Homo sapiens: one gene and its partners. The protein of the gene in region 1 interacts with the protein of each later gene in a biochemical or structural test. Each region holds a gene or a part of one and is shown on either strand. Other genes may lie near its edges. The genes, in order: PAX3, POU3F2, RAD23B and SOX10.

Evidence for each region.
Region 2: the proteins of PAX3 (region 1) and POU3F2 form a complex in vitro, tested with the Homo sapiens proteins (one study listed by IntAct).
Region 3: the proteins of PAX3 (region 1) and RAD23B form a complex in vitro, tested with the Homo sapiens proteins (one study listed by BioGRID).
Region 4: the proteins of PAX3 (region 1) and SOX10 form a complex in vitro, tested with the Homo sapiens proteins (2 studies listed by BioGRID and IntAct).

Annotation. Positions count from the first base shown.
Region 1 is NC_000002.12:222,198,884-222,205,307, forward strand, and holds the end of PAX3 (paired box protein Pax-3), read right to left. Parts: intron 3,308-6,424; coding exon 3,061-3,307; coding exon of another isoform or gene 3,041-3,060; exon of another isoform or gene 2,830-3,040; intron 2,560-2,829; coding exon 2,525-2,559; coding exon of another isoform or gene 2,521-2,524; 3' UTR 2,358-2,520; coding exon of another isoform or gene 2,291-2,357; 3' UTR 1,004-2,290; downstream 1-1,003. UniProt on the Homo sapiens protein: Transcription factor that may regulate cell proliferation, migration and apoptosis. Involved in neural development and myogenesis. Transcriptional activator of MITF, acting synergistically with SOX10.
Region 2 is NC_000006.12:98,828,873-98,837,573, reverse strand, and holds the start of POU3F2 (POU domain, class 3, transcription factor 2), read right to left. Parts: upstream 3,001-8,701; 5' UTR 2,701-3,000; coding exon 1,369-2,700; 3' UTR 1-1,368.
Region 3 is NC_000009.12:107,300,101-107,307,912, reverse strand, and holds part of RAD23B (UV excision repair protein RAD23 homolog B), read right to left. Parts: intron 7,773-7,812; coding exon 7,691-7,772; intron 5,879-7,690; coding exon 5,799-5,878; intron 1,535-5,798; coding exon 1,266-1,534; intron 1-1,265. UniProt on the Homo sapiens protein: Multiubiquitin chain receptor involved in modulation of proteasomal degradation. Binds to polyubiquitin chains.
Region 4 is NC_000022.11:37,974,516-37,982,327, reverse strand, and holds part of SOX10 (transcription factor SOX-10), read left to right. Parts: intron 1-4,192; coding exon 4,193-4,461; intron 4,462-7,812. UniProt on the Homo sapiens protein: Transcription factor that plays a central role in developing and mature glia.

The DNA of each region.
Region 1 (6,424 bases):
TAATTTTGTCATTTTATGTACTTTTGTTTCTTTAAATTTAAATAGGGATACATGGCTAGTAGCTTCTGAATTGGACAGCACCCTTTTAGATCTTCCTGACTGTAAGGTTCTCTCACACCAGTCTTGAGGAAGCAGAAGAGCATGAGTTTAAACACCTTGGGCACTGAGATTGTACTAGGTTCAAATCCTAGCTCTGCCACTGAGTGATTCATGTAAGTTCCTTGAGCCTCAGTTTTCTCATCTGTACAAAAGGAATGGTAGTGACATCACTTGCTGCATGTGACATGTGGAGAGTAATAAATAAGTTAATACAAGTAAGAGCTTCAAAAGGTATTATGATTATTCCTTCTAAAATAACAGTCCTCACACTTTATTGAAACTATGCATTTACTTCTCTGCCTTCTCTACTAGGCTACAAGCACCGCTATAACACAAGTGCCAATCACCATGCCTGGCACATTTGGACTCTCATTAAATACATTCAGGAAGAAGGGAAGGAGGGAGGGAGAGGAGAAAGGATCAGGAGAGGGAGGGAAGGAGAAGGAAGAAAGGAAGAATGAATGAAGTACGCAGTAATACCTTTCATGAAGAATAAAGTAGGCTGCTAAAATAAAATAAATAAAATATGAGAGTTTTAAATAAAAATTTCCGTGGAGATGACTTAGAGATGAAGATGGAACCGGGTACTCCAGGGAAAACATATCTCTAAGTGACAGTAAAGGGACTGGATAACTCTGAGAGAACCAAAGAAAGATGAAGGAAGCTAAACTGAAGGGTTTTTCTAGATGCTACACTGATAAAAACATAAACTTCAATCCTTAAAAGTGTGTTCAACCAAGCTTCTTCAAGAGAATACAACTGTGGGTTGTGTAACCTTATTTGTCGACAGAATACTCTCATAGAAAGGGTCCACCAGAAGTGAAGTTCATGTACATTGGGCTCCCCATTGCCAAGTTTTCATTTATACTACATTCACCAGTTCCCCCAAAAAAGCAGTAGTGGGCAAGTTTTCATAACTGTTTATTCATTATAAATAGTAAATATTTACTGCACTTTTTACATGAAAGACATTTTTACAACACATTGTTGTTGGTTGAGGCTGCAACACAAAGATAGTACTTCTCTTGTTCCATCACCCTCTAAGACCAATGCATGAACTAAATTCGGTACTATGTCTAGTCTCACTAACTCGCTACGTCATAGTTCTTAACTCTAAAAGGAATGTATTTGTGCCTACCTCATTCGTGGTTCCAAGAATAGAAAGAAATAAATAACACTGCCTTCCACCTTCTTGTTCCTCTCAACATCTCAAAAAGCAAATTTATTGACATTCTAAAATGTCACCACACAAACGTATGTAAACCTCAGTTCCTATAATCTTTTAATATTGGATATCATTGTATAATTTAAAAGTACATGAGAGCCATGTGAACACTTCTGTTCTTGCCCTGCCTTTCATAGAAAAGAGAAGAATGTAAACGTAATCAGTTTAAAAGCATAATTATCTGATCTGGTCTCTAATCAAAGGAGCAACCCGGGTGTTGGTTGTCCAGCAAATGGCAAACATCACTGCACTCTATCACTATGAATTATGGGCTGTGAAAATAAAAGCACCTGCAAAAATATACTTCTGATTTTGCTTATATCGCCTTGGGCATTGCCAAAGCATCCATGAGGTACACAGTATTGCACACTGATAAGCAGATATGTGAATGCATGTCACTTTCTCTCCACCGTGCCCTTCCTCCAACCCAGGTGGGCTACCAAATAAATGTGAACTGGAAAAACGTCACACACCTCTCCCCACACAGGAAAGGGAAACAAGTCCTTCTTCCTGGTAGCCCATATCCTGTTAGCAAGACATGTCCGGGCCATTTATTGACAACTAGATTACAAATGAGGATACAGTAACAAATAATTTATTTAGGAGGTCCTTTACAGCTAGTCTAGCTTCCTAAAAATGGTTGCATTTATCTTTATTTCAATTTCCAGTGTGTAAGAGTCAAGGATTCCTCCATTCTTGCTTCATGAAATGAGCAGTTTTAAAGTTGTAGAAGTATCAGCATCGAACATCGACATGTTATACTTTAGGGTATTCTATTATATTTTAGAACAGTCTGCTTGCCCAAACCAGTCTGGGTAAATCTCAATACACACACACACACACACACGCACGCACGCACACAAGCAAATGGAATGTTCTAGCTCCTCGATGATCAGCACTAAAGAATTGGGATGTTTTGATATGTAACCATGTGAAACCATTGCCTTAAAATGTTGCATTTGTCTTTTATTGCTCCAGGTCTTCCTCTTCTCCACTGCTTTTGTCGAACGTGTTCAAAAGGATTTGAAACCAACTATTGGAGGAAGAAAATCAATCACTCTCCTTTGTCTCCTATTGGGACCACTGCCCCACCCCCCCCAACAAAAGGGTAATTTTTTTTTGTTTTCAGAGCAGATTCTTCATATCTAGGCTGCGAAGACCAGAAACAGGGCCAGTTTTAGCTCCAAGTGGACAGTTCACTTACGCGATATCTGGCTTGAGATAATGAAAGGCACCTGTAAGGAAACACACGCAGCTTTTTAGGTCATGCTGGGACAATTCACAGTCAGGGGCAAGATCAGCTACAGGCTGACAATGTCATATTTAATACCGTGCTATCAAAGGCTTGAGACTAATATTTTTATTCCTGAGACAAGTTTGACACAACTTTGTGTCCCTGGGATTATCCCCCATATGATCCTGGAGCTGACCTCATTAAGAACATGTGTTTCTAATGTCAGGGATTATTTCATTTTGGCCAACCCTTGTGTTTTACCTAGTGGCAATCAGGTTTCACGTCTCAACAATTAATAACCGCAAGATGTTGTTGACATCAGTTAAGAAAATAATTACACAAGGAAGCCCCTGCTGGAACAGTCAGCTGGCTTTGCAAAAAAAAAAAAAAATTGATACCGGCATGTGTGGCTTAATCTTGCCTCTAATTCACCTTTCTTAAGGAAGAGTTGAGTTTATCTCCCTTCCAGGAGAAATTGCCCCCTAAAAAGTCCAAGGCTTACTTTGTCCATACTGCCCATATTGGTAGCCTGTGACAGGGTCCATACTGTAGCCTGTGGTGCTATAGGTGGGTGGACAGTAGGACTGAGATGTTGGCAGACTGTCCAAGCTCTTCATATGGTCTAGTCTCTGACTGCAGCTGGCCGACACCGTGGTGGTAGGTTCCAGACCCCCGGTGAGAGGGGAGAGCGCGTAATCAGTCTGGGGCTGATGAGGTACCCCACCGTGGTTGGTCAGGAGTCCCATTACCTAAAAAAACAGCCAGATTGGGAAGAGGTTAAAATGCAGAGAGATCCAGATTGCAGCCTACAGCTGAAAGAATAACTTGACAGTCCAGTTTTTATTTCTTTGGAAATTGGTTAAAGAGCTGTCCAGGAGACTATGAACCCAATTCTAAGTGGCAGAGATATTACATCATGCCCGACGATAACATCTGACTGCAGTTGCAGAAGAAGGAAAGGGGGAGGGAGAAGAGGGGAGAAGAGGGGGAAGAGGAAAAGAAGGAAGGAGAAGAGGAAAGAGAGAGATTACACCACGTCCCTAGTGATAAAATCAGACTGGAATTTCAAAGAAGGGGGAAAAAAGGATGAAAAGAGGGAGAAATTGTATCTGTTCATACAGAAAAATGTCTATTCATACATTATATCTGGAAGTTTCACATGTGATTTTTAAACAGTCATTTGCTTATATTTTTAAAAGATAAATGAATCCAAATCAAGTTATTTTTCATGTACTTTGAGATCTCTGTGCCTTTTTTTTTTTAAATAGTGTTCCCTCTCAAGAAAGCCCCTTTCCTTATCTTGGCCATTCTTTGATAATTAGAAATATTTACTCCTTTCCTGATGGTCTCTGGTACTTTATTTACCCCTCCCACTGTATATTCATTAGTTCAGTCACCTGCTTTGACTGGTGAGAGCTTTGAGAGGAGCAATCTATTCATCTTTATATCCCAGCACCTAAAGCAGTGAATGCTTGACACATATTAAGTGCCGAATGAATGAAATGTAAATGATTCTCCAAGTAAAAGCCTCCATTACCTATTATTTTATTTCTTCTCTAAACAACCATTTCATATATATATATATATATATATATATATATATATATATATATATGAAGTGTTAAAAGGAAAGACAAGCCTGAAATGCAAACATGGTCTTAAAAAGTTCAGTTTGTAAATAACCTGGACAGTAAGACAACTTGGAAAAAAAAAAATATCCTGTGACAGAATAACTTTCAGATCAACATGGTGAAGTGCTTCACCAACTCAAGATCCCTGACCCTTACAGCACCTTGTGGTGAAAGTAAGTGGATAATTAATTTTGCAGCTGGAAAACTGCCACACGAGAGAGGAAGCGATTTTTCTAAACTATGTACCCTTCTGTGGCAGGGTTCAAAAGCAATTGCAAAAGAAATCTAACGCCAGGTCAAGAGCCCCCCCGAAGACACATCTACTTACAAAGTATTTAAATGCAGTATCCAACAATTCCACAACATTTCCATAACAGTCCTGTCTTATTTTAGGAAGTGTGAAGCCTACAGAGATTAAAGTGTGCAAATAAGAGAAAGAGGAGAGGGCAGAAATGACAACCAAGCCCTGACTATAAGCCCTCATGCTAACTGCAGAATAACTCTCATAATTCAGGCAATAGAACCTCGGATCTAGGAGTTCCAGTAAGGCAGGAATCTGAGAGGCAGGTGAGGCGGGGGGCGGGTCTAGTTTTGCTTCCCAGAAAGCATCTCAACTCAGATTCCAAAAACAAGGATCCCATAATTCCCTTTGGGAAGGGTTTGCATAATCCTTATGATTAAGTAAAATCTTCTTGAACTAAAGCTCTGAGCTGATCCATCTTCAGCTGACCCCAAAAGACAGAGAAAAAGAGATCCACCTTCTGTGGATTATCAATTATCCACTCTTCCTCCATTTTAACAGAAAATTTGAACGGATGTCCCTGCCTTCCCCAGAAATCCTGTTTTTCATTTTGTTGTCTCTCTTTCATTTGAGTTATTGTCTATGCACACACATGGGAAGGTGGGCTGGTGTGGGCAAAGCAACACAGCAAAGCCCACATTTTGAAAGACATCCCAGGAATCTAAGATTTTTTGAGATATGTGGTAAAACATCCTTTTTTACAATTTTTAAAAATTAGTTATATTTTTAAAAAAAACACACAAAACATCATTTGTGGCAGAGCCCAATTTTGTTTTATTGGGGATTTGGAGAAAGTGAAAGTCACAAAATAAAGTAAGCATCAATAGGATTGACAATTCCAGGAAGATGGAAAATCACTAGAATGTGGGTTCTTTTAGGGCCCTACCCAGCATTGTTTATAGCAATTTCTTCATTTCACTACTTAAAAGAACTTGAACATAACTAAGAATGCATTTAAATTAGTTCCTGGATATGTTTTCCATCTATATGGGTTCTTTTTGCCTTTATTTGAGCTTATATAGATGATTTCTATATAAGTGTATACTTGGAAAATTCATGAACTTCAATTGATACACTAGTTTATTATTTATGAAATTTCAGCCCAAATTAGACATTTCTTTTAGAAGAAAAGAGTCTTTAAGTTAGAGGTTGTTTGGTGCCAAACACACTCCTTTCAAATCAGGAGTACATTTTCGTGTGTGATCCTGATGGGTGAGATTGGACATGAACATAAAAACACTTTAAAATGTGATTTTTTTAATAAAAGGGAATAATCGCACAGGGCAAATATTTTACCATGAATAAGTTGTGTTAAGCAAAATTCGAAATCTTAGAAAAAGCAATTTTGTAACTATATCAGTCCAGAGAGGAAAGATATCCAGTGGCACTAAATAAAAGGAAAATAAACTCTAAATTAATATTGTCCTTCATGAAGATACTTACTTGAAATTCAGTCAATGGTATGTCACTTTAAGGGAGAAATGGAATGCTGTATGTACAGTTATACTTGATGAGCTCAGAGCAGAATTTTATTCAAAACATGCACACTTTCCCATGAGCTATATGTACATTTTTGTGATAAACTTTTTAAAAAAATCCCCTGCCATACATTTTTTGTTTGCATAACTTTGAAGGCAGCAATAACTAATTATAGGGGATGGGGGAACTCAAGAAGGACCTAGAAGAGAAGAAACATGTCCTTCCTATAAGCAAAAATCAGCTTATGATGTTGTTCATGAAGCAACTTTTGGCAGTCGCTGCGTTAGAAAATTCATTAGGAAAGGATTTAACTCTTAAGACCTTGAAGTATATCTATTGAAGGGTGGAGAAGATACCCTGTTTGCAGAGCCGTATTAGGGCAATAGAAAGATAGTTCCTCAAAGGTTCCAGGGCTGAGTAGCTTTAAGACTTCCCAAAACATGACCAAATAGGAA
Region 2 (8,701 bases), on another chromosome or scaffold:
CTTGATAAACAAATGAGCTAGTGAAGACAAAACCTGTCTACTGCGTGGAGATCGTCAGTGTATGCTGTGGGTATCTGTGTGCTAAAAAACACAGTCTTATGCATACACTATTAAGTTCCTGGGTCTTTTTTTATGTAAAAAAAAAGCTATTAGAGAAACAAAGTTTAACTGCTGCTGTCAGCACAAATAATTCTTCATAATTGTTACTAAAACTGAAGGTAGAGAACTATATAGGGATATCTGAAGATATGTACTTCCCTAGTTCTCTTCAAAGTGCCACTTTCTTTCTGCTGGACAACTCTGGAAATATATTTAACCTCCACATTTCCCCTGAGCTCTTTCACAATGGGCCCGCCTGATAAAATGAAGCAATCAGTCACTCACTATCGATTTTTCTTTTTTCTTCCCTCCATAACCTCCCCCAGAAACACTGCCTGAAAATGAAGTTTACTTTGTGGCTGGTAAGAACAACCAATGCTTATTTTTATATTCCAAACCGGATTCTTGCCTTCGATAAAGCGGGTAGACCATGCACATTTCCTGAAATCAGAGAATTGTCTATTTTGTATGAAGCCAATCCTTTTGCTTTGGTAAGAGGAACAAATAGATGTTACACCCTCGTAAGGGGAATGTGAAGGTAACCAAAGTTCACAAACAGTACGAAGAAGGGGCAACACAAGAACATTAGAAATGGAGAGTGGCCAAGAGCTGGCTTCAACTCTCTCCGATGAATAAAGCAAAGCAAAACAAAATCCCCCAAAACGGCAACTCCCAAATTAACGGTGGGGAGAAAGAGAAAATATGCTCATGAATTTGTTCACGTAAACTTCAATTTTCTTGCAGTGCAAATTTATGTGGTTAAATTTTGCCTATATGAAAGAACATGTGTATTTTTTCCTCTTTCCTGATGGGAATCCACAATAAATAAACACAGCAGCATGTGCCAACTCTAAGCATCAGGAAGCTGCATTTTGTGTTTATCATGGTTTGGTGGATTTTTTTTCCTTTTTGGTAATTTATTTAGTTTTGCCAGGTATTTATCTCAGTGCTTGCCATCTCTCTGTCTCTCTCTCTTTCTAGCTATCACACACTCTCCTCACTCTCTCCAGGAGACACTCCACTCCATTGCCTGGTTACTCGCCTGCAAAGGTCAAAACACATCATTACACCTGCTACCTTTAAAGGATAGTCCAGTGTCTTAGTTGCTTTCCTTTTGCCTTATTTTTTTTGTCTTTTTAAGGGACGGGGAAATAATAATTAAAAATAAAAGAACAATCAGAAGTTAGAGAGGGAACAAGAGGGCCGGGAAAGGGCCAAGGACCGAAGGGGAGGGGGAGCCCCGCGCTCTGCCCCTCCCCCAGCTCGAGTTCACTGGACGGGCGTCTGCACCCCGTGGTGTGGTGGAGTGTCCCTACTCCCCCCGTACACATCCTCGGCGCCCGGCAGAGTCCCTCCGGGAGGGGTCATCCTTTTCTCTTTCTGTCTCCTGTTACAAAACCAAACTCTCACCACCTCCTTCTCCAGCTGTAAGCTGTCCGCGAGGGAGGTGATCTCCTGGGCCGAGGGCTTGGGGCATTTGAGGAAATGGCTCTCCAGAGCCCCCTTGACGCTCACCTCGATGGAGGTCCGCTTTTTCCGCTTGCGCCCTTGCGCTGCGATCTTGTCTATGCTCGTGGGGCTGCCCGAGGACGAGTCCGCCTCCTCCAACCACTTGTTCAACAAAGGCTTCAGCTTGCACATGTTCTTGAAGCTCAGCTGCAGGGCCTCAAACCTGCAGATGGTGGTCTGCGAGAACACGTTGCCATACAGGGTGCCCAGAGCCAGCCCCACGTCCGCTTGGGTAAATCCCAGTTTGATCCGCCGCTGCTTGAACTGCTTGGCGAACTGCTCCAGGTCGTCCGAGGTCGGCGTGTCCTCGTCCGAGTGCGGGTCGTGGTGCGCGCCTGGGTGGCCAGGCGGACCCTGCGGGGGCGGCGGGGGCGGCGGCTGCTGGTGTGGGTGCGAGTGCGGGTGCGGGTGGTGGTCGGCATGGTGTGGCTCGTCGTGCGCGTCCCGCAGGCCGTGGTGGTGCAGACCGGCCGGCTGCCCGCCGGCGCCCAGCATGCCGTTCACCGTGAAGCTGGGCTGCGAGTAGAGCAAGCCGCCGTTGGACGCTCCCATGGAGGGTGGGAGGTGCGCTGCAGCCGCCGCGCTCCGCCATGCCCCGGGTCCCGGGTGGTGGTTAGCGGCGTGGTGCACCAGATGCGGCGGCCGCTGTTGCTGCTGCTGCTGCTGCTGTTGCTGCTGTTGCTGCTGCTGTTGCTGTTGCTGCTGCTGATGCTGCTGCTGCAGGGCGCCTGGCCCGTGCAGCTCGTCTCCGCGGCCGCCCTGCTGCACCACCACCGAGGGCTTGATGTCCGGCTGGCCCAGGGGGCTGGTGGACCACGGGGAGCCGTCGCCGCCGCCCCCGCCGCCGCCCCCGCCCCCCCCGCCGCCGCCACCGCCCCCGCCGCCGCCGCCGTGGGACAGCGCGGTGATCCACTGGTGAGCGTGGCTGAGCGGGTGTCCGTTGCTCTGCAGAGCGCCGTAGTCGCCCTGCACCAGGCTCTGCGCTTCGCGGTAGCCCCCCGCGCCCTGCTGCATGCCGCCGGGCGGCTCGGCGTGCACGATGGAGGCGCTGGAGGTGAGCAGGCTGTAGTGGTTAGACGCTGCGGTCGCCATGACTCTCGGAGCCGGACTGAGCGCTCCGGTTAAAGGAGCCGCGCATTTGACAGTTACTTTTTCGCCTCGGGCTCCCTCTCCTCGCTCGCTCTTTCTGTCTCCTCTCTCTCCCACAGCGGGCAGCTCCGACGCCCGCTCCGACGCCTTCTGTTGCTGCTCCTGCTATTACTGCTGCTGCTGCCGCCGCCGCCGCCTCCCGCCCGCCCTCGCTCTCTTTCTCCTCCTCTCCCTCCTTCTCGCTCTCGCTCACTCTCTGACTAGCTCGGCGCTCCCCCCTCTCCCTGCTCTCTCCAGCTCTCTCCCGCTCTCTTGGCAGCGCCGGCTCGCAGCGGCACGCGCCTGGGCCCCGCCCCCTCCGCCCCCTCCCATTGGCTCCGCGCCCTTTGATTTACGTGGATACCGCTAGCAACCTCCCAGGCCGGCGCCACTGATTGGCGCAGAGCTACTCCCTCCCCCTCCCCCGGGCTCGGAGTCCTCCTAGCCCTCCTCCCCGTCCCCTTCGCCTCCCGATTCAGATTCTCTCAGTTCTCACCCCCCCGCTTCTTCCTCACCCGGGGCCTCCTCCGCCCTCTCTCGGATGGGCCCCGCCCCCCATCTGTCTCCCAGGCAGAGAAGACCGGCAGGGGGGCGGTCCCGGTGCTCTTATCGGCCACAGACACTTGGAAGACTTGGATTGGGGTGGGGGGCGGGAGGCAGTGGTGTCCACTTTCGTTTCCCAATAGGGCTTTAAGATGGGGAAACGGAGGGGGTAAGGGAAAAGCTGGGTCGCACCGAGCCAGCGGGAGTCGGATTTTTATTCACCTAGGGACACACACACAGTGTGTATCTCTTAAACCTAGAGCCAAGAGCCAGACCTGTTCCCCTGTTCAACTCTCCTTGCATCCCACGGTTAGAATTTCAGTGCACAAGTGTCTCTTGCTCCAGGGTGTGCGGACACTTCGGCCCAAAGCTCTTCTCCTTCCCCTCTACCCCGCGGCTAGCACAGGCTCTCTTCCTTTTAGGTTCCAGGCCCAATTGTCTCCCACTCCCTTGGGGAAAGAACCCCGAGAGAGGCAGGCTCAGCCCGCACCGCGGCTTGTAAGTCATTCCCATCAAGGCTCGGAGTTGCTTGCTCTGACAGCGTAGCGGTCTGAACTGAAAACCAAACAAAACTCTAAAAGTCTCTCCGTCAGATTCACACGCCGGCGCGTGCAGTTTTTGGTTTAGAAAACTAGAAGCCTGCGTGGGCTCCGTCTTGTGCGAGGCTGCCGGAGTGCTGGCGAGGGGTGTGCGGCCTTGTAGGGGCGGCGCAGTCGCCAAAGGCCGCTCCGGGAAGCCGCGCGGAGGGCCTGCGTGCGCGATTCCCCGTGCTCCTACCGCTGGTAGGTGCAACTTTTCCGTTAGCCCCTTGGGAAGGAGGAAGAGTGTGTGAAGCAAATGGGCTGATGCCAGGGGAACCTTCCTAATCAGTAACTTCGGTGGGCGCTAGCGGGTGGGGTTAGTCTATGTCTTTGGCGCTCCCTGGCCAAGCTCCCAGCTCAGCTTTCAGCAGTGAACTCCAGAGCAAGACTATGGGACCATGCACCCGCAGCGCCGCTCTACGGAGCGCGGGCGCGTCGCGCCATCAGTTCTTTAGCCGCCCAGAGCAGGTGCCGCCTGCGAGTTTCCGAGCCTGCAAGCCCGGTAGCTAGAACTTGGGCGCGGACCCAGGCTGGAGCGGCGTGACCGCCACGCAGGGCCGGGTGTGTACATGGGCGCTGTAAAGCGAATCAACAGTTACTGCCGGGAAGGGAATGACAGACCCCAGGGAACCTGGATCGCGTCCCCACCTCTCACCCCTCGCTCTATCGCTGGTTTTGCCGGCGGTCGTAGGCTTGAGAGGGCAGCCAAATCAACGCTCAGAGGGAGCATTTTGGGGCCTCTGAGCATCTGAATCCAGACAGCAGACTGGAGCGGGCCAGAAAATTCATCATGACTAACAAGGAGTCATGCTCTTTGGAGAGTGGCTGAGCTGTTTATAAATCACCACGTTGAGCACCCGCCCGGGCAAGACGCTTTGGCTGAGAATTTCCACGTGTCCTGTGTTTATGAGCGTGTGTGGGGGAGAGAAATGGATAGGGGAGGGGCGAGCCCACAGGCCGCCAGCAGGACGGACCTGCACCCCCACCACGCGCGCACCCGCGCGGCGAGGCGAGGCGAGGACACACACAGCGTGTCGCTCCGTCCCAGCGCAAGCGCGGGGCCACTCTGGCCGCGCGCCTGGGGGCTGCTAGGAATCCCATAACTTTGTCTAGCTAGGAAAAAATGAACAAGTCCGAGCCTCAGCGCGCAGACTCAGCGACTGGTGCCCGCGGCTCCGCAACCGCGAGCCAAGGGGCTGGGTGGCGGGCAGAACCGCCTTCTCCCGGCTTCGGCCCTGCGTCCCCTGTGCTAGGCGCGTGACTTTCCCTGGGCCTTGGGGAGCGCACAGACAGCCCGCCAGCCGCATCTTCTCCTGACATGTCGTGCCTTTCTTTTCGCGGACCTGGAGCTCAGAGCTCCCACGGACAGAAGAATCCAGCCCTGGGGAAGGGCCGCGTCCAAGTGCTAAGCAGCTCATACTTCTCCCCCACCTTTCTGGGGCAGGTGTCTGCTTTTCTCTGGATTTAATTTCACATTTCTCGAGGCACAAGGCCTTCTGCAGCCCATAGGATGATACACTCGAAAGAAGAATGAAGTTTTCAAACACATCTTCGAAGGAACTGAGGCGGCCTGGCTCTGAATCAATTTAAAAGTTCCTCCTCCTCTTATCTTTCTCTCCACACCCCACCCCACACCCCCGCCCTCCTCCCGGCATAGGGCGCTAGTGTGAGGGGACAAGAATAGGCTGCACGTGTACATCAAAACTTCCTGTCTGCGATAGGACATCACCGGCGATTAATGCTGAGATCCTTCCCACGTTGACTTCCCAGGTCTCAACTCCAACTTCCATCCCCGTCTCATTTCGCTGGCGGCCAAGGAGCCGAAACGTTCCCAACAGGGTTTAATATACCCAATAAATCCCCGGGAGTACACAAAGAAATAGCCTACCCGGGGCCTCAGTCTCTGCACCCCACCCCCACCCCCAAGCGCGGCCAATCACCGGGCGGGCCAGGCTGGGCTCGCACCGCGGCTCTGAGCAACACCTCCCCACGAGCTACCGCCGCCTCCCCTCCAGGCGCCAGGGGCCCGGTTGGCGCGAACGCCGGGTTCCGAGCACCCTGGGCTTCCTTGTCTGCCTCCCAGCGCGGCACCTCTTCGGGGCTCCCGAAACCTGAGCTCTCGCTGGTTTTAGGTCCAGACTGGGGCCTCTCCACCGGTTCCTCCCCCGCCCCGGGCTCTGGGGCCCATTCTTTGGGCTGACCCTGTCAGGGCAGAGTCCGCGCGTCTGCCTGCCATTCTCCGCCCGCATAAAAGCACGTTGAAGGTGTCTCGGGCAGACACCTCCAGGTTTTGAATCAGTTTATTCCCTTTCACTGTTCAAAGCAGCTGTTCAAATACACAGGCTGCTTACGTTGACGTGGAGAGGATTTCAAACAACGCTAAAATGCTTTGAACTGACAAGGTGTCTTGATATCTCCCTCACTCCATCCAGCACAGCTCCTCGAGATCACTCGCTAGGACAATGGCTGAGCAGGCGATTCGTGCGGGCCTCGCCACCTCGGGGCGCGGACTGCGGGGTGTCCTAAGCCCCTTCCGCAAGGACAGGATGGAGGCACCTGTAAGGAGATGCTGGCGCCACCCCAGCTTCTCCCAGGTCCGGAGGAACCTCTACTCAGTCAATACCCTGAGCTGGACTTGTCTGAAGAAACGGAGCCGACTCCCTCTTGCCGGGGTGCGCTGAGTGGAGGGGAAACATCCTCGAATAACAGAACTACACCAAAAAGACACCCATGTTATCTCTCACACTTTCACACTCCTCGAGATAGTGAGCCGGACCTGGGTCTTAGTAGCACCCAGTACCTTGACACAAACCTCCCAAATTTCCACCTGAGTAACAGTTATGGGGTCAGTCCATGCACTGTAACTTGAACTCTAATTTATTAACTATTTCATCTAGTAAACACACTCACACCATATATAAAATAGCATTTATTTATTTCTATATACCAGGAGTTGGCAGAAAACCCACCGTGACCACTCCCATACATTGAGCTGGAGGCACACAATTACTAAAACAGAGGTGAAATGGTATTCATTTGATCTTAATTTTTTCTTATTTATGTAGTCCCAGGATAATAGAAATCAGGAAACAAAAGAAAACAAAGAATTTTCTGAGGAGATGGCCATTGGGGGAGTGGAGGTAGCAGCTGGTTTAAACCTAAGTAAAACTAGAAAAAGAAACTGCTGTTTCCTTTTTCTTATATCCACCTTAGAGGATCATGTTTGAACGTCCCTACTCCTCCTCCTCTTTTTAAAAAGCCTTGTCTCAGTCATTCATTCCTGTGCTTCCTGCTCTTCTGCTAGACCCCAGCAGCTGTTTGATTTGGTGAGGCCCCCCTCCAACCTCTGAGTGGAACTTCTTTTCTAAGGGCCTGCAGAATGTCAAAACTGAGGCTCTGGCTTCGGAGCTAGAGCTTTGAACAGCCAATCCACACAAAAAGGCAGCTGGCTGCTTTAATGAAAACTGCTATAAAGCTTCAAGAACTTTAGCCTTGGGGGATGCATTTATAAGGAACATGGAAAATGCATTTCCAAGTTGCTGGTTCTTGGGAGAGACATAATAAACATTTACCAAAAAAAAAAAAAAAAAAAAAAGGATAGAACTTACTATCTTTAATTATGCAGCAGCATATTTTTTCCTGAAGAAATAAAGCTTCCAATAAATTTGTATGTTACTGTCTATACCTATATTTTGCAAATTCCTAAATGTGCATCTGTCCTTGTGTAATAAAAGGTCTTGAAGAATGAAAAGTTTTCTGAAAGTTGAAACTCTCCTACGTCATATGCTTGGCAACTCTGTCCATACCTCACATACAAACAATTCTATTTTACCTTCACTACTGTGTAAACCAGTGAAATATAATGTCCTTAATTCAGTATTTGAAATAAAATTATCTGTATTTATAGATACTAATATCTTTCCCTTTTTCTTCAAGTTATAAATTTTATCATTAAAACAGTCCCCCCTTTGTAGTCTGCAAGTGAATATTTTATATACAGGGATGGCTTGAAGACATCTAACACCATGTCACCCAGATAGTCTAGCTGTTTCAAGGATTACTTTGAGTAATTTATCAAAGGAAGCCTGCTAAATCCTGAGCGGTGAATATGAGGCCTTAGGAGGGAGAAAACATAAAGGAAGCATTCCGTCGGTGTATAAGATAAATTCTGTTTGGAGGAGTTAATATAGCTTGTTTATACGAAATCTCAGAAACAGAACAAAAATCTCAGAAACAGAACAGGAGACAATTGGTGGCTTCCAGTTTGCTTCCCGCAATTTCACTTTCAAAGGACTAACAGTTAAATGACCTCTTAACAATGGAGCCTAAAGGTGTCTGTGTGTGTGTGTGCGCGCGCGTGTGTGTGCGCGCACACGCACACACAGGCACGCTCGCATTTTCTCCCCCTAGCCTTAAAGCAGGTGGATGGCTGGCCACCAGTAGGGGATGACAACTCTTTGATAAATTAAAGTGATTTCAACAGAAACCTCCTTAGCTCTAAAGCATTTGGAAATGTACTGGGATGAAGCTCTTGCTAGAGCTCCTGGCTTCTCTCATCCTCTGGAGCAATTTTCGAAGAGGAAGGCAAGCTAGGGACGAGTGCACTAACATACACCTGCGCACAGAGGCGGACTGGGGAAGTGGGAGGAGGGTGTACTCAGCTATTTCACTGAAGCCATTTTCAAGGGCTAGGGCTGTTGCTCCAGCCCTGGGATAAACAGGCGTATTTGGTTGAAGTTGGACTTCAGTTCTCTTATTCTGCCTGCACACAGCACGAATGCAAATCCTTCTGAAGTGTACAAGTGCACTTAACAATTGTGTCGTTAGTGTCCGGGAGGACG
Region 3 (7,812 bases), on another chromosome or scaffold:
TAGTTGTACATGGGAAAGATGGATCAAGTTAGGCAATGGTGTCATAGAATGCTTAAAGCAGTGTTCTAGGCAAGTAACAGGGCAAATATTCTATTGCCTAAACCCATGTTGTCTTCTTAGGGAATCAATTATTTAGAAAGAGACCCCCAAGTAAGCAATGAACCAGGTGGCTCAGACTCCTCCAAACATGGTTGACTAAGTCAGACACAGAAACCACACTCAAAGGCAGAACACTAAAATGAAGGATCACAACTATATCTTTCTGATCATTGTCATATATATCTTAACCCCTTTCCATGTCTGTAAACCCTTCCAGTCACTGCATAGTTTTCCACTGTGTCTGATTCTGACTCCAAAGATCATATAACTACTGCCTCTGAGGTCCTGAGTTGCACTAAGTCACAAAATACAAACAGCTGTAGTGCCAGTGAAGGCTGGTCATAATATAACTCATGCTCTTAGATCAAGGAATTGTGCTGTATGATTTCCAACCAAGAGAACTCTGACTTAAGCATTTGCTTTGGTCATTTTACCTGATCGTCTGGGGAGAAAAACAAAAGTCTTGTCTTAAACTGCTCAATAATCCTAACTGCCTAAGCAGCCACTTAGTTGAGGTGTCTCTGCTGTCAACTTCCCACAAGAAATTATTTCTTGCTCCTCAAATATCTCAACACTCTTTTCCTTTTTTTTCCCCTAAAGATCCACACAGGCAGAAGCCTGAATTTCTCACAAGTTCACAAAGATACAGATACAACAGTGAAAAACTGAAATAGTCCATAGGTTCAGGTTACAAGAGCTAACAAATGTCAGAACCAAACACAATGCTATATAACTACGGGAAAGATTTACTAACATGGAAGGATGCTTATGATATATATGACAATGACCACAAAGAATACAGATCAAGTACAAATGATGATCAGGGTGGCAATGTCATGATGTAATCCTTATTCATTTTGGTTATTTGTATTTCCTAACGTTTCTACTCAAAAAAAAAAAAATGACTTTCACCTGCTTTCTCCTTTCCACTGCCCCCCACCCTGCCCAAATCAACAGAGTACAGAAATCTGATTATGAAAATTTGTACTTATATTCTCCTTAGTAAGCTATCAAAACAGACGCAGCATATGTTTTAGTCAAACATTTAAAAAAAGCTTAACGTAATAGATATAGTCGGTTTGATCAAAACAATAATCAAAATAAATGCATGAAGTTCCTGTTAAACACGGATTTTGAGATAGAATGTCCTAGAATCCAGTTCCTACCTGTCAGTTGCTGTTGGGCTAGTAGCCACTGGTGTCTCTGCTGGCTTTTCTGCAGGCTTCTCTTGTTTAGCTGCACTAGCAGGTGCAGGTTCAGAAGATGCTGTCGCTGATGCTGGAGTGATGGATGCAGGTGTGGAAGTGGGGGCCAAGGCAGGGACAGGGGTTGGAGCCTGAGCCACAGTTGTGGTGGTGGAGGAAGTAACTGCTGTAGTGCTGGCAGGAGCTGACTGCTGAGTTGTAGCTGGTGCTGGTGTGGACACTGCTTTGGGCTAAACACATTAAAAGACAAAATAATTACAATAAAATACTACATACTGCCTGATCTCTAATTAGACTGTACCGTTACAGGATGCCACAAACATAGCACTAATAACAACCTATAACTTGAAAATAATTTTGTAAAATGACACAATAAATGATCAATATTAACAATCTGACTCATGGTTACTCTTTCAAAGCTCATGACAGCGTATGTTAATCTTAACTATCAACCACAATTAATTTTACCCAACAATTTCCATCTTCATATCAAGTTAATATAAAATAAAAAATTTGAAATATATATAGATATATAGATATATATATATATATATATAGATATAAACCGTATCATTTTCCCAAAAAAACTTTATGTACCTAAGTTGTAACTTTAAGGTACCTAATACCACTTAAAAGCATTAATAAAATAATTTTCTTTAATTTTAAAGACAGGGTCTTGCTACCTTGCCCAGGCTGGTCTTGAACTCCGGGCCTGAAGCAATCCTCCCACCACGGGCTCCCAAAGCGCTAGGATTACAGGCATAAACTACTACATCCAGCCCAAAATAATGTTCTTGAAATGGCAGTATAAATGTTTATTTATAAACATGTCAAATATTCTGTTGTACTGTATTTTTAGAAGAGGGAGGAAAATCCCAAAATTGACTACAAATCAACAGATCCAAGTACAAAAAGGTTCACAATACTTTCAGACATATATGTAATTAAGCAGAAAAATAAAGGCCAAATTAAGTTACCTCCACACGCTCAGCACTTTCTGAACTGGAAATAGAGCCATAAAGCTTCCCACAGAGCAAAAAAACAATTAGTTGACCCTTGAACAACAAGGGTTTGAACTGCACTGGGTCCACTTACATGATAATTTTTTTCAATATAAGTTACACTGAGTGTGCCTGCCTCTCCTTCTACCTCCTCCATCTCTGCCACCTTGAGACCGCAATACCAACCCTTTCTCTTTCTCAGCCTATTCAGTGTGAAGACAAGGATGAAGACCTTTATGATGATCCACTTACACTTAATGAACACTAAAAATATTCTCTCTCGTGATTTTCTTTTGTTTCTTTTTGAGAGAGGTTCTCACTCTATCGCCCAGACTGGAGTGCAGTGGTATGATCACAGCTCACTGCAGCCTCAACCTCCCAAGGCTCCTGCCTCAGCCACTGCCCCCGCCCCCAACACCAGGTAGCTGGGACTACGGGCTCACACTACCACTCCCTGCTAAATTTTTGTATTTTTTTTTTTTGTAGAGACAAGGTTTCGCCATGTTACCCAGACAGGTCTCCAACACCTGAGCTCAAGCGATCCGCCCACCTTGGCCTCCCAAGGCGATGGGATTACAGGCATCAGCCACCACACCTGGCCATGATTTTCTTAATAGTTTCTCTAGCTTACTTTAATACAGTATATCATACATGTAACATATAAAACATGTATTAATCCACTGTTTACGTTATCAGTAAGGCTTCTGGTCAAGAGTAGGCTATTAGTAGGTAAGTTTTGGGCAAGTCAAAAGGTATATGCAGATTTCTGACTGTAGGGGAGAGGCCAGCACTCCTAAGCTCAGTGGTGTTCAAGGGTCAACTGTACATGTGTAAAAATCATACATGATTTTTAGTCTTCTCCTAAGGCCTCTCAATGCTCGCTACCTGTTTAGTTCATAACTTTCCCAAGGACAAAAGGTAGCTGTTTTAGTGGAAGACAAGGCTTAAATTCAACATAATTTGCCACAGGCATAAACAAACTCTAAAACCAATGAGCTGCCTTGTCTTTTTGATTTGAACTAATAAAGAAGACACTAGGAAAAAGGTTAGTGAAAGGTGATAGGTTTTTAAAAAATACTAGTAGCATTACTCCCTTCTTTTCCTATTTAGCTTAACTTTCTTAACAGCCAATATAATATTCTGCAGATTATTACTGTTCTAAAACTAAAATGAGCTGAAATCCTGAGATCATTCTGGATCTTCAGTTATTCTGGATAAACTGGAGCTTCACAAAGGTGAAAATTTAGAGTCTTAAGCACCAAAACTTTATAATAACCAATCTAGATAAAAATGTATTTTTAAAAGTGGTATACTCATTTAATATTTTCCTTAATTGTTATCAAAATAATATTGCAATGTAACTTCCCTTCAAGGTTCCTACTGCCAAGAACAGCTACTTATACTTTATTCTAAACAGTACCAAGCCCTTCTCTGCTTTTTAGTTTTTATTCTTGCTTTTGATCTTAATAGCTTTTTCCTTTCCCTTCTTTGTATTAATAAGGTCATTTCTCAGTGCTTCCATAATGCCTTACTGTAGCAGCATTCCCTCCCTTTTCATAGTTGTCCTCTATTAACTTCAAATAAAACAATCATAAATATCATTAGAATCCTATGTAATATTAGGAATAAAAGACTTTAAGGAAAAACAAAAGGACTGTATGCAATATAATGATAGGCTTCAAGTATCTATTCCTCAAACACACGCACCTATTGAGACTTTTTCTGCTTAATTCTTGTGTTCTAAACAGTCAGGATCACTGTAATATTAAAAGAAACTAAGACCAGTAACAAAACATATTTAAATGTGTGGCTATCACATTTCCCATTATGTACTATGTATGCTAAAACTAGATAGGAAAATAGGATAGTATTCAGTCTTAAAAGTTCAGCAAATTCTGGCACAAGCTATAACATAGACAGATGAACCTCAATGACATTATGCTAAGTGAAATAAGCCAGTCACAAAAAGACAAATACCATAGGATTCCACTTATATGATGGTGATAGCTGCAAAACAATGTAACTATAATGTTATTGAACTGTACACTTAAAATGATTAAACTGGAAGTTTGTTATATTTTACCACAGTTGAATAAAAAAACCTAGATGATACAAGGTTTCCTCACGATTCTGCTTGTTTTTAAACTTAACATATAATGACTTAAGTTCTTAAGTATAGCAAAATCAACATGGTTCTTAATGAATTAAAAAATGTTCAACACTTGTAAACTATTTAGCTGCTTGCTCCCAGTACAAAAGCATGTGGTAATTAGAATTTATTTCTTCGACTCTATTTTCTATTACTATTAACTATTTTGTGACTTTGAGAAAAAACCCACATTTAATCCACTTTTGGCCTTTGATGAAGTGGTTTCAATTAGTGATTTAAACTCATTTTCAGTGCTACAAGTAACACTGTTCTTTCTCAGATTATGACAATCCAATCCTAAAAATGAATGTCATGAGTACCACTTCTCCATTTGTCTCTTAATTCTACACTGCATTATATATCTTTAAATAAACAAGTATATAAATAGTCTCTTAAAAAAATCCATGTTCATTCTCTGCTTTAAAAAAAATTTAATTTTATAAATTGTTCCAAATACATTCCAGCCTACTAAATCACAAAAAAGTATCTGTTTAAAACTTCCAGGCTGGGCGCGGTGGCTCACGCCTGTAATCCCAGCACTTTGGGAGGCCGAGGCGGGCGGATCACGAGGTCAGGAAATCGAGACCATCCTGGCTAACACGGTGAAACCCTGTCTCTACTAAAAATACAAAAAAATTAGCCGGGCGTGGTGGCATGCGCCTGTAGTCCCAGCTACTAGGGAGGCTGAGGCAGGAGAATGGCATGAACCCGGGAGACAGAGCTTGTAGTGAGCCAAGACAGCGTCACTGCGCTCCAGCCTGGGCAACAGAGCGAGACTCCGTCTCAAAAAAAAAAAAACAAAACAAAAACAAAAAAAACTTCCTCATAAAAATCATTCCATCATTTCTTTAGTTATCTTTTCCCTTTTTTTAGTTTCTAAAAACATATTCTTTCACTAAGAACTATCACTGTAATAATAAGCTTTCATGCCTTTTCTGTCTTGAGGAATCTGTTAGGACTAGTACGTAATTTAGCAGGTCTATTTAAGGCAAGCTTACAAAAACTACAGAATAAACATTTATTCCACTTATAAAGACATTTTAAAAGAATTATATAATGATTTCACTACTGTAGCAAAAATAATTTTAACATGACATTTTATTTTTCAATTGTTTTAATTTACATAAAATTTTATTAAAACTATATTATAGTTTAATGTGTAATTAATGTAAAACATTAATAACTTTATGTTTCACTTAAGGTAAATTCTTAAAAACCTTTCATAGTAGTTAAGTGTACACCACTATGGATGTGTATAAACTGTGTCCATTGTGTGGACTTGTGATCATCATTTTTAAAAAGACCTACATGCATAAAGATATACAGAATGAGGTTGAAACTTACTTTGGTCACCATAACCACCACAAAGTTTTTCTCATCAATTTTATATTCTTTGAGAGCAGTATCATCATTGAGGATTTTGCCTAATACATTAAGAGAAAAAAAAATCATTTAAGGCATAATCTTTCTCTTACACTTCAGTTAAAACAACTTTCTACTCGAAATATGAATATTTCAGAAATATTAAAATATGAATCACCAACATAAATTCTATCAGTTAATACTTTTCCCAAAGAAAAACCAATCAATCAAGATAAAAATAAAACAACTCCTAAGTGGCAGGGCATGGTGGCTCACACCTGTAATCCCAACACTTTGGTAGGCTGAGGAGGAAATATAGCTTGAGGCCAGGAGTTTGAAACCAGCATGGCCAACATAGCAAGACCCTGTTTATGAAAAAAAAAAATTCAAAATTAGCCAGGCATTGTGGCACATGCCTATGGTCCTAGCTACTTGGGAGGCTGAGGCAGGAGGATCACCTGAGCTCAGGAGTTCAAGGATACAGCGAGTATAATCACACCACTGCACTCCAGCTTGGGTGACAGAGCAAGACCCTCTCTCAAACAAATAAAACTAAAAAGCATAAGCATTTGACTAAAAGATGTCAAACTTATATAGTGTATATAGAATGACAATCAATTTTTACAAATGTATTGATTATATAAAAGACTTACTGGGCAAGGAAATATGAAAGAGGCCCTGAAAAGGAGGAGATCATGAAGATAAAGAAAATTCAATACTCCGATTGCACAGGGGTCCTCTGGAAAATAACCTATATTCTTTTATGATATGAAGAAAGGGAGAGAAACAAATTTCCTGCTCCCCAAAATACTGATATCTGATAAATCAGAAATGTTCTAACACTATCAAAGCAAGATACTAAAAGTACTTCAGAAAACGACATGATACACAAGAAAGGGCAAGATGCTACAGAACTTAGAAATGCACGAAGTACACAAAACTGTGGTCGTGCTGAAGGTCACTATTAGGTAGCTAGGACTCTCTAGTGTTTCTTGCTACATGAATTTAGTTTTCCACCTTTAAAAAGCTATTGAATCAAAAGCTGCTAACATTAAGTCAGAAAGGAATATGGATAGGAATGAGAAAACAGGCCAAAACAAGAAACTGGAAATTTGAATTTTATGTCCGCTTCTTTAGGCTTCTGAATTCTGACCTATAAAAATAATGGGACTGAATCACCAGGTTAGCATTTCCTCCAGGCTGTCTCACTTTAGGAAACACTATTCAGAAAAAGAGAAGAATCCATGGGTGATCAAACACCCACCTTACTAACATCTACAATGAAAGCATTTTCTCTAAAAATTTGGATATCAAATGTATTTTTAATATACATTTTCCTGGTTATTAGTGAGGCTAGTCAAATGTATAATTCCTACTCTTATCCTTTGTTGCTTTATTGGTCATCCTTTCCTTACTGATTTCTAAGAATTCTTTACATAATCTGAATATTAATTTTTTTTCTTCCTGTAGGTGTCTGTGTGATGTGTTTTTTCTGTACTCTTCAGTTAGTTTTGGTTAAAATAATTTTACAGGAATGATTCCAAGCATACTAATAATAACACAATCAGTATAAATGGTTTCAATTCAATTTAAAAAAAAAAGCTCCGTTTGATTAAAAAAACAAAAGCCAGTTACACGATGCTTACAAAAGATAAAACAAAACTAATACCATTTGATGGAAAAATACACAGGGCAAATGTGAATAAAGAGAAGATTGAATATTAATATTAGATTCAAATGACTGCTCTTTCACTGCTTTTATTTGTACAATCATTTTTCTGACAATTTGAATATACTACAATATATAAGATAACATTTCTAAAACTAAAAGAATATCAAGACATGGCATGTTAATTTTAATATTTAATTCATACCTGCATAAATTAATTTTTGACCTGCTACTGGAAAGGCATCTTTCCCCTTTTCAGATTCAATCTTCTCTTTCAGTGCTTTCACCTATAGGAAAAATAAAGATTTGTTTTGGAAAAAGTCTAAA
Region 4 (7,812 bases), on another chromosome or scaffold:
CTGATTCTCGCTAGACTGACCAAGAGACAGGCCCAGAAAGGCAAAGGAATCACAAAGGTCACATAGAAGTTGGTAGCAGAGCCAGGGCCAGAACCCAGGACTCCCATACTCTCTGTCCAGAGGACTTCCCCTGACCCTGGTGACAGTGGTGGATCACCTACACTTTGAGGAGTGGTCAGGAGGTTGGGGGGAAGCAAGAAGATGAGAACAAGAGTGAGGAGCATCTGGGTTCCAGAAAATTAGGGCTTTGTCAGAGGAGCCCGGCTCTCTTCCGCTGCCCTCCCCCTTGCCAGCCACAGTTGGGTAGAGATTGGGTCTAGAGGCTTAGAGTGGTAGAAGGTGCAGGAGGATCTCCAAGAGACCAAAAGATTCACATCCCGCCCCCTGGCCTGTTCTTGCCATGTGTTTGCTGAAGACCTGGTGCCCCTTCCCCTGCCCCTTCTCAGCCCTCAGTGCCCTGCTCACCCAGGGCAGGCCCAGGGCTCAGCGACCAGCCCGCTGTGTGGACCCAGACAGCCCAGTTCTGCCCAAGAGCAGAGGTCACAGCTAGCTCCTCCACCCAAGGTCCATCCAGATCTGGGTGGGGCTTGGCCCAGGCCAGTATCTTTAGTGCCAGGGGACAAAGAGCAAGTGAGAAACAGACAACCAGGAGAGACATACAGATAGGGCAGACTCTGGGGACCATGAGAAGACCACAGTACGAGCCCAACGAGAGTCAAAGCAAGGACGGACCTCATTTTCCCTCCATCTCCCATTGCCAAGGGTTTAAGATTGGCTCCTCCATTGTCCCTGTCCCCAGGTTCCCCCAGCCCAGAACCCTGGGCTTGGACTCCCTTCAGGAGGACTTATTCTTGGCCATCACTCAAGCTGTGTGCACAGGGGCCAGCCTGAGGTGTGGCAGTCAGGAAAACTGGCACTACTTGCTGAGGACCCAATCCCAATGGGAGGATGGGGCCAGAACCATGGCAAGGATCAAAGGCAATGCCAACAGAGGGTGGCTCCCTGGACCCTGGAGGGGGGTCCTGAGAGACATTTGGATTTGGGCTGGGCTGGCCAATTGCTCCAGGGGCTTCTCCTGAAACCTCCCCAAGCTGTGACTCCTGGGATGTCAAGAAGTGGGGTGGTTAGGTAGGCAGAGCTGGAAAACAGGTGTCTTAAAACCAAAAAGAGAAAGATACACACAGACTGTGTGGAGTGCCCCAAGGGAGTGTGGGATCAGACACACTGGAGCCCAGGTCCTAAGGGGCCGTGTCAGCCCCAACAGTCATTCTAACCTTTGATGCCCATCTGGGGAGGGGCTAGTTGAGGCTGATCACAGGGTGGTGCCTGTGGGTTGGCTGATCTGCCTGGAAAGAACCAGAGCCAAGAAACTGGAAAGGCGGACACAGGCAAGAGTCCCTCCTGTGTGGTGGGGGTCACCCAGCCTCTGTTCCCAGTGCCACAGGCCCCTTCCCCAAGTAGTCTTCTTATGCCCCTGGCCTAGCAGGACACAGGTAGCAGCAATCAGTGCCCCACTGTGGGAGGTCCCCGGTTGGGGTTTCCAGTTTGGGTGAGGAATCAGCCTACCTCTTCTTGCCCCCATTCCAAACCTGGGAGACCAGGGAGAAAGAGGGCTGACAGGAAGGTGCAGATGAGGACTGGGTTTGGAGTTAGAGCTGGAGGCGAAGTTGGGGGTTTGGGGCTGGTAATGTTGAGTGGGGACTGGTGCTGGAGATTGGGTTTACATGGTGGGCAGGCTGGGCTTGGGGTTGGGGTGGAGGTGGAATCAGCTGTCCGGCACAGCTGGTGGAGGAGGGAGCTGGGGTCGGGGATGGCAGTGGCCCCAGGCTTAGATTTCTGTCAGGGTTAGGCTAATGCTGGGAACTAGCTTAGGAGGTAGCAGCGGAATCCGATGTTGGAATCCTCTCTCTCTTCTGGCCCCTGTCACTTTCTTGCTGATGCTGGCTGCCAGCTGGGCAGGGGGCAAGGGAAGGATAGGTGAAAGAGTGAGCTCTGTGTCCCATGTCCCCAGCCATCCCAGAAGCCCCTCTGTTGGGGTCCACTGCTGGCGGAGCAGCTCTCTCCTCTGTGGGTTCTCCCCAGTCACACCCTCAAGGCCTGCTCCACCCCCTCCCCTGGTCCCAGCCGTCAGAGAGGGTGCCCACATCCCACTCCCTGACTCTCAAGGCCCTGCTCCGGCATCTTTGTCCTAAGTGTGTACACTGACTCTGACAGAGTCTCGGCTGGAGGGACCCTCTGAGAAAGCTGGGGCTAGGGCTGGGCTCAGGGCCGGGGTGGGGGGAGTAGACAGGGAGGCTAAGCCGCAGAGGAATGCTGCTGCCGGCTAGGAGGTGCCTGGCATGACCACCCCCGCCCAGCCTGGGGAGGGAGGGCTCGGCCTTCTGCTGACTGGGGGAAGAGGGCACTCACTGGGGTGTGAGGGGTGGGGCAGCTGAAGAGACAAGCCCTCTGGACTGACAGACAAGGCTGCTCCCACAAAGACTCATGGATTCTCAGTACCAAGGTCTGGGATTCTAGAATCTGGACTTTCCCCTCGACCCCCTCTGTAAGGTACCCCATCCTGCCCTCCTCACCCTGGGGCAGCCAAACCCTAAATGCCCTCCACCCTCCAACCCTGGCCTAAGGCTGGAGTCGGTGGCAAGGGCGCTGGCTTCAGGGCTTCTTCTCTCCATGTGTTGGTTTCAGGGACTGTTCCAGGGTCTGAGGAGAGGCTAGCTTCCTCTACTCTCTGCTATTTTCTGGACAAGGATATAGGATCCCCCACAGGAGGCAGTACCCCCCACCCAGACCCATGGTAAAGAGGAGCCACATCTGCCCCCTCAGTCCCACCACACTGGAATTCACACAATCAGGACCCAGAGTTAAGAGTCCAACCCTAGATCCTCCTGTCCAACCACCCCCGCAAGCAGCATTAGAAAAGCACCTCTTGGGGCCGGGCACGGTGGCTCATGCCTATAATCTCAGCACTTTGGGAGGCCAAGGCGGGTGGATCACCTGAGGTCAGGAGTTGGAGACCAGCCTGGCCAATATGGTGAAACCTCGTCTCTACTAAAAATACAAAAATTAGCCAGGCATGGTGGTGCGTGCCTGTAGTCCCAGCTACCCGGGAGGCTGAGGCAGGAGAATCGCTTGAACTCAGGAAGCCGAGATTGCAGTGAGCTGAGACCGCATCACGGCACTCCAGCCTGGGCGACAGAGTGAGACTCTGTCTCTAAATAAATAAAAAATTAAAAATAGAAAAGTACCTCTTGGGCTGGGCACAATGGCTCATGCCTGTAATCCCAGCACTTTGGAAGGCCAAGGCAGGCGGATCAACTAAGGTCAGGAGTTGGAGACCAGCCTGGTCAACATGGTGAAACCCCATCTCTACTAAAAATACAAAAATTAACCGGGCGTGGTGGCGCATGCTTGTAATCCCAGCTACTTGGGAGGCTGAGGCACAAGAATCACTTGAACCTGGGAGGCAGAGGTTGCAGTGAGCTGAGATCATACCACTGAGCTCTAGCATGGGTGACAGAGTGAGATTCCCTCACAGAAAAAAAAAAGAAAGAAAGAAAAGCACCTCTTCCTCAAGGTGCTCAGCCCGCTTCCCAGGCCCTGGTGCAAGGCATCTCACATCCATTATTCTGGCCAATCCCACACCCAAGTTAAGCCAATGTTATCATCCTTTTATAGGTGAAGAAACTCAGGCTCAGAGAAGTAATTTGCTCAAGGTCACACACACAGCTAGTAAGTAGCAGAGACTGAGTTCTCCCCCAGCCATGCTGCTTCTATTGCCCACCCTCAGTCCCAGGGAGCTCACCCCCACTGAAGTAGCCAATTCCACTTGCAGACAGCTTTGATGATGAGAAAGTTTTTCCTTTCCTTGAACTGGCATCTGCCCCTTGAAACCTCTACTCCTACTTCTAACTCCTCCTCAGGGGCTGCCAGGAGCAGCGGGCTGACCCCTCTCTCACCCTCCAGCCCATGAAAGATTTGGGGGCAGCCCTCTGAGGCTGTTATTCCTTGGGCCTCACATCTCTCAGTCCACAAATCATAGGGCACAGCCCCCACCCCGGGTCCTGTCCTCTGGGTGCCCCATCCCAGGGCCTCACATCTTCCAAGATGGACACTCAGAGGGAGGCCAACCTGGAGTGCTCTGGCATTCACGCCAGCCCCTCTGCTGTCCTCTCCGCCTCCCACCACACCCCAGGCTGCTGAACGAAAGTGACAAGCGCCCCTTCATCGAGGAGGCTGAGCGGCTCCGTATGCAGCACAAGAAAGACCACCCGGACTACAAGTACCAGCCCAGGCGGCGGAAGAACGGGAAGGCCGCCCAGGGCGAGGCGGAGTGCCCCGGTGGGGAGGCCGAGCAAGGTGGGACCGCCGCCATCCAGGCCCACTACAAGAGCGCCCACTTGGACCACCGGCACCCAGGAGAGGGCTCCCCCATGTCAGATGGGAACCCCGAGCACCCCTCAGGTGAGTGCTGATGACAGAGCTGAGGGTGGGGCAAGGCCAGTCAGTGGAGACAGGAGATGGCTGGATGGCAATGAGACCCTGGACTCTAGGGAGAGCGTGCCAGGCTGTGCAGTTGCCCCAGCAGAGCTGCAGGGGCCCAGAGGGAGCTCCATGGGGGTTCCGGTGCCAGGGGAAGTGGCTGGGTGAGATGGCTCTGGCCAGGGCTGATCCTACTGGGCAAAGAGGGCCAGTTAAAGACTGTGGAGGCCGCCGGGTGTGGTGGCTCACACCTGTAATCCCAGCACTTTGGGAGGCCGAGGAGGGCAGATCACGAGGTCAGGAGATCGAGACCATCCTGGCTAACATGGTGAAATCCCATCTCTACTAAAAATAAAAAAAATTAGCTGGGCGTGGTGGCGAGCACCTGTAGTCCCAGCTACTCAGGAGGCTGAGGCAGGAGGATGGCGTGAACCCAGGAGGCGGAGCTTGCAGTGAGCCGGGATCGCGCCACTGCACTCCAGCCTGGGCGACAGAGCGAGACTCTGTCTCAAAGAGAAAGAAAAAAAAAAAGACTCTGTGGAGGTCATGGAGTGAGAGGTGGCTGGGGCAGTTACAAGTAAAGGGGGAGAAGACAGGATGGTTTTGAGAAATGGAAGAGCAAATGGAGGAGAGGAAATCACTGCCTCTTTCCCACCAGCCATTCTTTTTTTTTTTTTTCTGGAGACAGAGTCTCACTCTGTCGCCCAGGCTAGACTGCAGTGGCATGATCTCGGTGCACTGCAACCTTTTCCTCCCGGGTTCAAGCAATTCTCCTGTCTCAGCCTCCCAAGTAGCTGGGACTACAGGTGCACACCGCCACGTCTGGCTCATTTTGTGTATTTTAGCAGAGACAGGGTTTCACTATATTGCCCAGGCCCAGTCTCAAACTCCTGAGCTCAGGCAATCTGCCCGCCTCGGCCTCCCAAATCCCACCAGCCATTCTGACAGAGGAGACATGGCATGTGATACCGTGTCTGGCCATGGATGGGCCAGACATAAGCTATCTTGTTTAATTTTCATTAATGATAATAACAGCTAACCTTAATTGAGCAGCTACTCTGTTCCAGGCACTGTGCTAGGTGCTAGTTGCCTTATGTATACTAACTCAATCCTTGCAAACAATGTGATGAGGTACCCAAACTGCCTGGGCTCAGATCTCAGCTGTGGCAAGTTACTCTCATTTTACTGATGAGAAACAAACAGGAACTTCCCCAGTTTGGCTCCCGGGCATCTGCTTGGCACCACAGCTGCCTTGCCTGTGTTCCTAATGTACAGAAAGTGACACACACAGGTCTGCCACATGGGAAGTGCTCAGTGAGCAGAGCTCTGCCTTCAGAGGACACGCTCTGAGTCCTACTTTGTGTCAAACACTGGAGTGGACACCAGGGGTACTAACCAGAGAAGCCTACAGTCCCTGGCCTCAGGGGCCCATAGTCTAGAGAGAGGAGCAGGGATGAAAACGAGTGAATTAAGTACAGGAAGAAACAAAGCTAGGCATGGTGGAATGCGCCCGCAGTCCCAGCTACACAGGAGGCTGAGGTGGGAGGATCACCTGAGCCCATGAGTTTGAGACCAGCATGGGCAATGTAGTAAGACTCTGTCTTTTTTTTGTTTTTGTTTTTGTTTGAGATGGAGTCTTGCTCTGTTGCCCAGGCTGCAGTGCAGCGGTGCCATCTTGGTTCACTGCAACGTCTGCCTCCTGGGTTTAAGCGATTCTTGTGCCTCAGCCTCCTAAGTAGCTGGGATTACAGATGCACGCCACCACACCCAGCTAATTATTGTATTTTTAGTAGAGATGGTTTTTCACCGTGTTGGCCAGGCTGGTCTCGAATTCCTGACCTCAGCCTCCCAAAGTGCTGGGATTACAGGCATGACCCAGCACGCCCAGCCTCCTATCTCTTACTATATATATAGTATATATATAGAGAGAGAAACAAGTGCACAAGAAGTCTGTGTGAGATCCAGAGGTGGCATGGCCGTCTATCCCATCCAGTCAGGTCTCCAAGAACACCCCACTGCCCACCAGACTCTTGTCAAGGAAGGCTTCCAGAAAGAGGCAATGCCTGGGCTGCTTGGTACAATCTCTATTTTACTGATAAGGAAACTAGTTAAGAGAAGACTGGGGATTTGTCCAGACACAGAACCAGGATTCAAAAGCCTAGGCAGGTCTCTTGAAGTACAGAGCCCTTGGCCAATGCAGGACTTGGCGCTGCCTCTGGTCTGATGAAGGAGGCACAGGCCTGTCCTTGGGGAGCTCCTAGTCTCTTAAGACCATGGACATGTTCTGTCTCCATTGGGATGCCAGGCAGTCATCCCTCCCACACACGTGTACATACTCTTCACCTTCAAAGATTCAGGGACACACACACACACATCAGGAGACCCTGGACCACATACAGAGCAACCACCTCAGAATGAAACTGGACACAGACTTTTTCTCACCCTTCAAGGCCCCACCCCACTCAGACATCCTTCCCTGATCAAACCTTCCCCAAATCCCTGAGGCAGCGGGTGGACTCCTCCTCTGGTCTCCCAAGTCCTTGCATATTGTCACCACAGCACTTCCAACTCTGGGTGCATGTGGATCTATGGATCTATGACTAGACTATGAGCTTTTGGGAACAGGGATCCATTTTATTTACATTAGTATCCCCAGCACCTGGCACAGTACCTGGCATTTTGTAATGCTCCCTAAGAGTTTGCTAAATTAATATGTGAATAGGAAAGTGAACAGACAAAGGAACAAGGACCAGTTTTCTAAGTGCCCTCCCATGGAGGAAGGCAGCTCAAAGAACAACAGGGCAACACAGGCCAGCGTATGACGGGGCTAAGGGCTTGCCAGTGGGCTGGGAAGCAGGGTGGGCTCAGGAGGAGGGAAGGGTTGGAAAGGACACAACATGAGGCCAGGACAGGGAGCAGGCCCAGGCAACCAGCAAAGGTGAAACAGAGCACTCAGGAGCCTGGGCGAGCGAGGCTCAGCAAGGAAGACAGTAGGCATGGGTGTGGAAGCGGGGCTGGCAGAGCGCAAAGGCTGGGCCAGACCACCTGGACAGCAGAGAAGCTGATGAGAGGAAGAACTTTCCACAGGAAAGGTTTTTTCAGAATGAGGCAGGCCTCCCCAGGACCCATCCCTAAGATTTGAGAATTTCATAAACAACTAGAGATCAATCTAAGACACCAGTATTTAAACAAATGCTGTGGGGCGCAGTGGCTCATGATGGTAATCCCAGCACTTTGGGAGGCCGAGGCAGGTGGATCACCTGAGGTCAGGAGTTCAAGACAACCCTGGCCAACATGGTGAAACCCCGTCTCTACTAAAAATACACAAATTAG